Homo sapiens: one gene and its partner. The protein of the gene in region 1 purifies or fractionates together with the protein of each later gene. This does not show direct contact. Each region holds a gene or a part of one and is shown in the gene's direction. Other genes may lie near its edges.

Region 1 (3,500 bases):
TTGTCAGATTGAGGAAGCTCCCTTCTATTCCTGATATGCTGAGAATTTTTATCAAGAATGGGTATTCAATTTTGTCAAATGCTTTTTTGGTATCCTTGAAATAATGTGAAATTGAAGATACAAAGGATGGATAGAAATTTGACCAAATTGGCCTGGTGCGGTGGCTCACGCCTGTAATCCCAGCACTTTGGGAGGCCGACACAGGTGGATCACTTGGGGTCAGGAGTTTGAGACCAGCCTGGTCAACATGGAAAAACCCTGTCTCCACTAAAAATAAAAAAATTAGCCGGGTGTGGTAGCACGTGCCTGTAATCCCAGCTACTCGGGAGGCTGAGGTGGGAGAATTGCTTGAACCCAGGAGGCGGAAGTTGCAATGAGCTGAGATTGTGCCACTGCACTCCAGCCTGGATGACAGCCAGACTGTCTCAATAAAAAAAAAAAAAAAATTTTGACCAAATTTGTTTTGCTTATTTTTATTTTGTTGCTATTATTGTTTTCCAGAAATGGTATAGTTTGTAGATGCTGTTGTTAATAAAAAAAAAAACAGATTTTCATTTGAATTTGATTTGAATTTCTGTGTTGAACTCACCGTAATTCAAGAAAATTTGCTATAAAATATTTACAGGTCTGAAGAGTTCTTACTTTTATCAGTGACATCATGAGTTGGTGGCAGTGTTTACAGAGCCTGAAAATAATTCAGATAGGGGCTTTGGGTGTATGACTTCTAGGCATTATAGCATATGTGTGTTTTATATAGTATATAATGTAGGCTTTATATGAGGTCATACATGTAAATATTTAGGAAATTTTAGCTGTCATTACTTGTAATTAATCATAAGATCACATTATTGTTCCAAAGCAAATATGGCCTTCAGTAAAGTTGTTAATTGTTGCTTTGTTGTTGTTTTTGTTTTTTTCTTTTCTCTAGACAGGGATGACGTTGAATGAGCGGTTTGGGATCCTGAAGGAACAAAGAGCCACTCTCACATACAACAAAGGGGGAAGCCGCTTTGTCACCGTGGGATAGGTCCCATGTCAAAGGAACTTTTGAGTGATGACTCTGAGAAGTTGAATTGCTTGAAGAGTTCATCACGGAAATTCAAGAAACTTTACTTCAAAATATTCACAAGGCTAAATAACTCTTATTTTTATTTTTGAAGGTTTTTTTTTTTAAAAAAAAAAACGTATAAAATAATGCCCTGAAAGAATAATAGGGATTATACCTGTCTGTTCTTAAAGATTTCATGGTTGGCTCAGACAGAACAATCATCTGTTTGACTTCTTTGGTTCCTCATGCAGCAGAAGGAAGACAGAAAGATAGAAATTGATTATTTTTATGATAGCAGTATTCAGGATCTCATCACCTTTGCCCGTGTTTTAGACTTTGTCATGGTAAATCCTGGTCTTCATAAACATGAGTAGGTCCCTTGGTTGCTGTCACTTGCCCTTTAATAGTGTTGATGTAGTCAGTGCCGTTGCCTTTTCTTCATTAGAGACACAGAACAATGTATTAGAATTTCCAGCTGTGGGTTTGAAGACTTAGGGGGACATCCAGAACGTGCTTCCTCTTTCAGACGGTGTAAAGTCCCCTGGAATTACACAGCTTTAGTGCTGAGCTTTTAACAGGAAATGTGGCCCTAGGTATTAGTCTTAGTTTAAAATGTTGGTGTTTAGAGACTGTAAATGCATATTCACAAAGTTATCTGATAGGGCCTTGGAGGAGAAGGTCCAGTTTTAAAAAATGACAGTTTGTGTTTAATAAATGAAGGCATGAGAGGAAGTAAGTAGCAAGTTGAAGGACAGGTAGTTGAGATGAAACACTTCAAAACCCTGGTTATAGATGTACTGTTTGGATGTAGCATAGTCTTGAGTCTAGCGTCCACAAAGAATTATTCAAATGATATTTAGAAGAATTATAACTATTACATTGAATGGAGTCCCTTGGATATTTTGATAGTAAAATTAATAGCCATAAAGTCCTAGACTTCTTATTTGAAGTTAAAATTTCTTATTTGAAAAGTTGAAATTTATGAGCTTTGAAGATTGCTAAATTAAATAATTTATAGCTCCAAAAACAAAAATATACTTGTATATGTCACAGAGAAAAAAAATGCAAAATTTATAATAGAGTTACATTAACCTTGTTGTTTACCTTTCACTGATTTCTTATATGGTATAAATTAAAGTTCAGGCATTTATGGGGAGAAAAGGCCCTCCCCACCGACCCGCCACCTGCCACCTCTGACGGAGTGGGAGAAGTTAGTCTGTGCTAAGATAGTACTGAGTCCCCAGATGTTGTATACTGTAAATTACAGTATAATGCCAAATGCAGCAAAATCTTCCAGCTGTACGTTACAAGTTTGGTCATTTTGAAGCTTGACATTTTAGTTTGCCATTATGTTAAAAACATCTAAATAGGTGTTAGTTTCTCAGGAGTAGATTGTTAGTGTTGACTTTTCCTGTAAAGCAGACATCGTTCTTGGCCTGCCCTGCATTGTATACTAGATTTCATTGTTGTCTCTCATGCTTCTTGAGTTGCTTCATGGTTTATGCTCGCCATGGAAAGCTATCAGTAACAGTTTCATGCTTATACCAAAGAATTAAATCTGATCTTTAATATCTGATATTTTCCTGGTACTCGTACTGATAAGGGATTATTGGAAGTCAGTCACAGAATTTGGAAATAAATTCTAGTCTCTCCTTAGCTATTTGATGCTTTTCATATAGGCCAAGAACTCATTGCAAAACATTTTTGCAAGGATGAATGCCTGTATTTGGTCTAGGAACAGTACATTTTAGTCTGATTTAGAATTACTGGTAGCTTATTTTAAAGCAAGGAAAAGCAGCTGAGCTCAAGTTTGCTGTCTTTAGAATGGTTTGTGAAAATATGGTATAAAGGTGTTTTCATTTTCCTGTTCTTACCTATTATTGTATAGAGCTATTCATGCCATTTTTTGGGAAAACTTTAAAAATTGCCCCAAATACTGACATTGAGTGCATTAAATAACAAATTATCTTTGATACATTAAACTTTTATTCTTCATGCATCTGTAATTTAATTTTAAGTATAATGTTTTGCCTTTGGTACAACTAAATTAAAACTCTTGGTGGTCACATATTGTATATAAACAAAACAATATGCTTTGTTGAAGGAAAATTTTCTTTATTGGAATGTGGTTGTAATCCTTGTTCAGTTCTTAAGTTTCGGTTTTTTTTAAAAACAGGATGCAACTTAAACTTTTCTTTGCATCAAGGTATATGCAAAACATTGGTGCCGTGCATCACCAAATGAAAGTTTGTATTTAACGAGGAGGTGCTTTACACTGTACTTTTTGGTGTTTTTTGGAAAAGTTACATTTAGATCTATTCTGAAGCTGTTCATTTTTAACAAATAAAATGTTACAGGTTTCACATGATTTATTCTCAGCTCTAAAGATTGAGTTGTGGTTTTTAGATTGTTCTATGTTACGAAGAACTTTGTAGTGGTTATCTATATTTGT
Region 2 (3,500 bases), on another chromosome or scaffold:
AATTATGGCCTCCAGCTGCATCCATGTTGCTGCAAAGGACATTATTTCATTCTTTTTGGTGGCTGTGTAGTATTCCATAGTGTATATGTAATATATTTTCTTTACCCAGTCCACCAATTATGGCCACCTAGGTTGATTCCATGTCTTTGCTGTTGTGAATAGTGCTGCAATGAACATGCCAGTGCATGTGTCTTTTTGGCAGAACACTTTGGGTTTTTTGGGAGGTATATGCCCAGTAACGGGATTGCTGGATTGGATGATAGTTATGTTTTAAGTCCTTTGACAAATCTCCAAACTACTTTCCACTGTGGCTGAAGTCATTTACATTCCCACCAACAATGTATAAGTGTCCCCTTTTCTCTGCAGCCTCTCCAGCATATATTATTATTTGACTTTTTAATAACAGGCATTCTGATTGGTGTTAGATGGTATCTCATTGTGGCTTTGATTTGCATTTCTCTGATGACTAGTGATGTGTAGCATTTTTTTTTCATATGTTTGTTGGTTGCTTGTGTGTCTTCTCTTGAGAAGTGTCTGTTCATGTCCTTTGCCCATTTATTAATGGGGTGATTTGCTTTTTGCTTGTTGATTTAAGTTCCATATAGATTCTGGATATTAGACTTTTGACAGATGCATATTTTGAGGATATTTTCTCCTATTCTGTAAGCTGACTCTTTACTTTGTTGATAGTTTCTTTTGCTGTGTAGAAACTCTTCAGTTTAATTAGGTCCCTCTTGTCAATTTTTGTTTTTGTTGCAGTTGCTTTTGGGGACTTGGCCAAAAATTCTTTGCCAAGGACAGTGTTGAGAAGGGTATTTCCTAGGTTTTCTTCTAAGTTTTTTATAGTTTGAAATCTTACATTTAAATTTTTAAGCCATCTTGAGTTAATGTTTGTATATGTTGAAAGGTAGGGCAATATGGTTTGGATTGGTGTCCCCACCCAAATCTCATGTCTAATTGTAATCCTCAATCTTGAAGAAGGGGCCTGGTGGGAGGTTATTGGATCCTGGAGACAGATTTCCCCCTTGCCATTCTCATGATAGTGAGTGAGTTCTCATGAGATCTGGTTTAAAAATGTGTGGCATCTTACCCCCCGCTTCCTCCTTCTCCGGCCATGTAAGACGGGCCTGCTTCCCTTTCACCTTCTACCGTGAGGCTTCTCAGCCATGTTTCCTGTACAGCCTGTGGAACTGTGAGCCAATTAAACCTCTTTTCTTTATAAATTACCCAGTCTCAGGTAGTTCTTTATAGCAATACAAGAATGGACTAATACATAGGGGCACAGTTTCAATCTTCTGCAAATGGCTAGCCAGTTTTCCATGCACCATTTATTGTATTCACCTTGCTTGTTTTTCCATTTCTTACTTTTAATTGAGATAGTTCAGTTATCTCTTTTGTCTAGGAGGAGCACAAGCAACTCTAAGACATTTTGGCCAGAGAAAAATGTTTAACGTGTTTTGAGTTGACAATGAAAATGTATATATATAATAATTATACTTTTATCCCATACTATATCATTTTCTCCTCCTTTGGAATATATTTTTAGATATTTAATTCCATGTTACAATAATTATGCCTGTATTTATTGTTAATTTTAACATCGCAAATCCCAGAGGGTAGTACTTGTCATCTTGAATGCATTAATGCCTAGCACCTTGGCACTCCTGTGATGATGTTGTCTGAAATTGGCTTGCTCAGAATAAGACAGAACATGTCCCAGGTCTAGTGGCAGCCAACTGTAGTTAATTGTCTCTAATCAAGATGCCAAGGAGAACTCATTTCTAATAATCTGTGCAACTAGGTAAGGGTGCAGGCTTTTAAAAATACTCATCACCTAAACACACTTGATATTTGGGGGTTTTCATTGGTTATTCTTCTCTGCTGTTAACGAAACTCTTACATAGTTTATGGGGTATTAGCAGGTAATAATAATAGTTTCCAAATTCTTTGTGGGAATTTACAAGCATTTACATTTACATCAACTCATTTCATCTTTAGACCACCTCTAGACAAATACTAATATCTCAGTTTTACAGTGGACAGAATAGAAGCCCACTTAGTTTAAATGACTTGCCTAAAGTTACATAGCTAACATGAAATAGACCTGGGTTCAAACTTGTGTTTCCTGACTTCAAGTCCCATGCTTTCTCAGCTATACCAAGGTGTTGTGACTCTACCCCCGCCTTTGAACTTGGAAATAGAGGGGTATTACCAAGTATTACTGGGTTAGCTCAACCTAATCATAATTGCCCCAGAGGCCACCTCTAATTGATAATATTAAGCATACTTTATTAAGGTTCCATAGAGAACCACTGACAAGGTTTCTACAAGGATATTAACACACACTCCACAGCTTTACTTCTGATTGAGCTCTGTTATTCTCTGGCACAGTCTTCCTAAGACCAATTAATAGTGATCATGGCAGTCAGCCTGTTATCTTAGGATTCAAAGAAAATATCTACATAAATATAGCAGTCAATCCATTGAAGTAGTGACTACAATACTGAACCTGAATAAAATTTAGTTTACTAAATGAAGATATGCAGATTCAATAAATGATTATGGACCAACATTTCATCAGCAACTGCTATAAATGTGAAAAATCATTATTTTTCATATATACACATGATCATCAGACCCACTAAAGGTAATTCATGTGACCAAAACTTTCTGCTGCTAAGAGATTAAAATGCATGTTAATCAGTAGAATTTAAGAAAGCCAGAGTAAAATGTAAATTGTGATGAAATCATTAAAGGAGTAACTTGAAAAACCTTCTATATCCTGGCATAAAAGTGATTATAGCACAGAGGACAGAATATTTTATTTCTTGACCTTGATTATGAGTATTGTTATAGGTTCTTGAATTTTCCTTAGGTCAGAATAGAGACATTAATTCTAAAGCAGTTAGAGAAATTAGTCTCTTTATCTCTTTCCTTATAGTTAATAGCATAGAGAAATAAATCTCTAAACCAATTTGAAACAGGATTTAACTGTCATTTCACTTATGTGTCTCTTCATTTTCTTTTACTCTATAACAGAAGTTTTTAAAAATAAAACTATTTTGATTTTCTTTTCAGTTCTAGGCCTGATTCTTCACTACCTGAGACGTCTAAAAAGGAGCACATCTCAGCTGAAAACATGTCTTTAGAAACTCTGAGAAACAGCAGCCCAGAAGACCTCTTTGATGAGATTTAACAGTCTCAAAAAATACTTTGATGTTCACTAGACTATGTTTTCTATTCATTTCTTTAAAATGAAAAAGGAGAATTTCAAGTCAGCAGCCGCTATTACCGTATCTTACAATTTAATTACATACACAGTGAATTGAAACCATTGTGCAAAATGGATTACACATGTATACAAAGATACGATTTGATGATGACACTGGCACATTATTCTAAACTATTCATTCAGCATGCCTATAATTACATAAATTGTATGAGACTTTTTGTTGCAAAGGACACATTTATCATATTCATTCACACATATTATATGTGAT

Evidence for each region.
Region 2: the proteins of FYTTD1 (region 1) and XRCC4 purify together in Homo sapiens (affinity purification with mass spectrometry; 2 studies listed by BioGRID and IntAct, with this or other methods). This does not show direct contact.

The regions. Positions count from the first base shown.
Region 1 is NC_000003.12:197,780,883-197,784,382, forward strand, and holds part of FYTTD1 (UAP56-interacting factor), read left to right. Parts: intron 1-928; coding exon 929-1,027; 3' UTR 1,028-3,500. UniProt on the Homo sapiens protein: Required for mRNA export from the nucleus to the cytoplasm. Acts as an adapter that uses the DDX39B/UAP56-NFX1 pathway to ensure efficient mRNA export and delivering to the nuclear pore.
Region 2 is NC_000005.10:83,350,047-83,353,546, forward strand, and holds part of XRCC4 (DNA repair protein XRCC4), read left to right. Parts: intron 1-3,078; coding exon of another isoform or gene 3,079-3,084; coding exon 3,085-3,196; 3' UTR 3,197-3,500.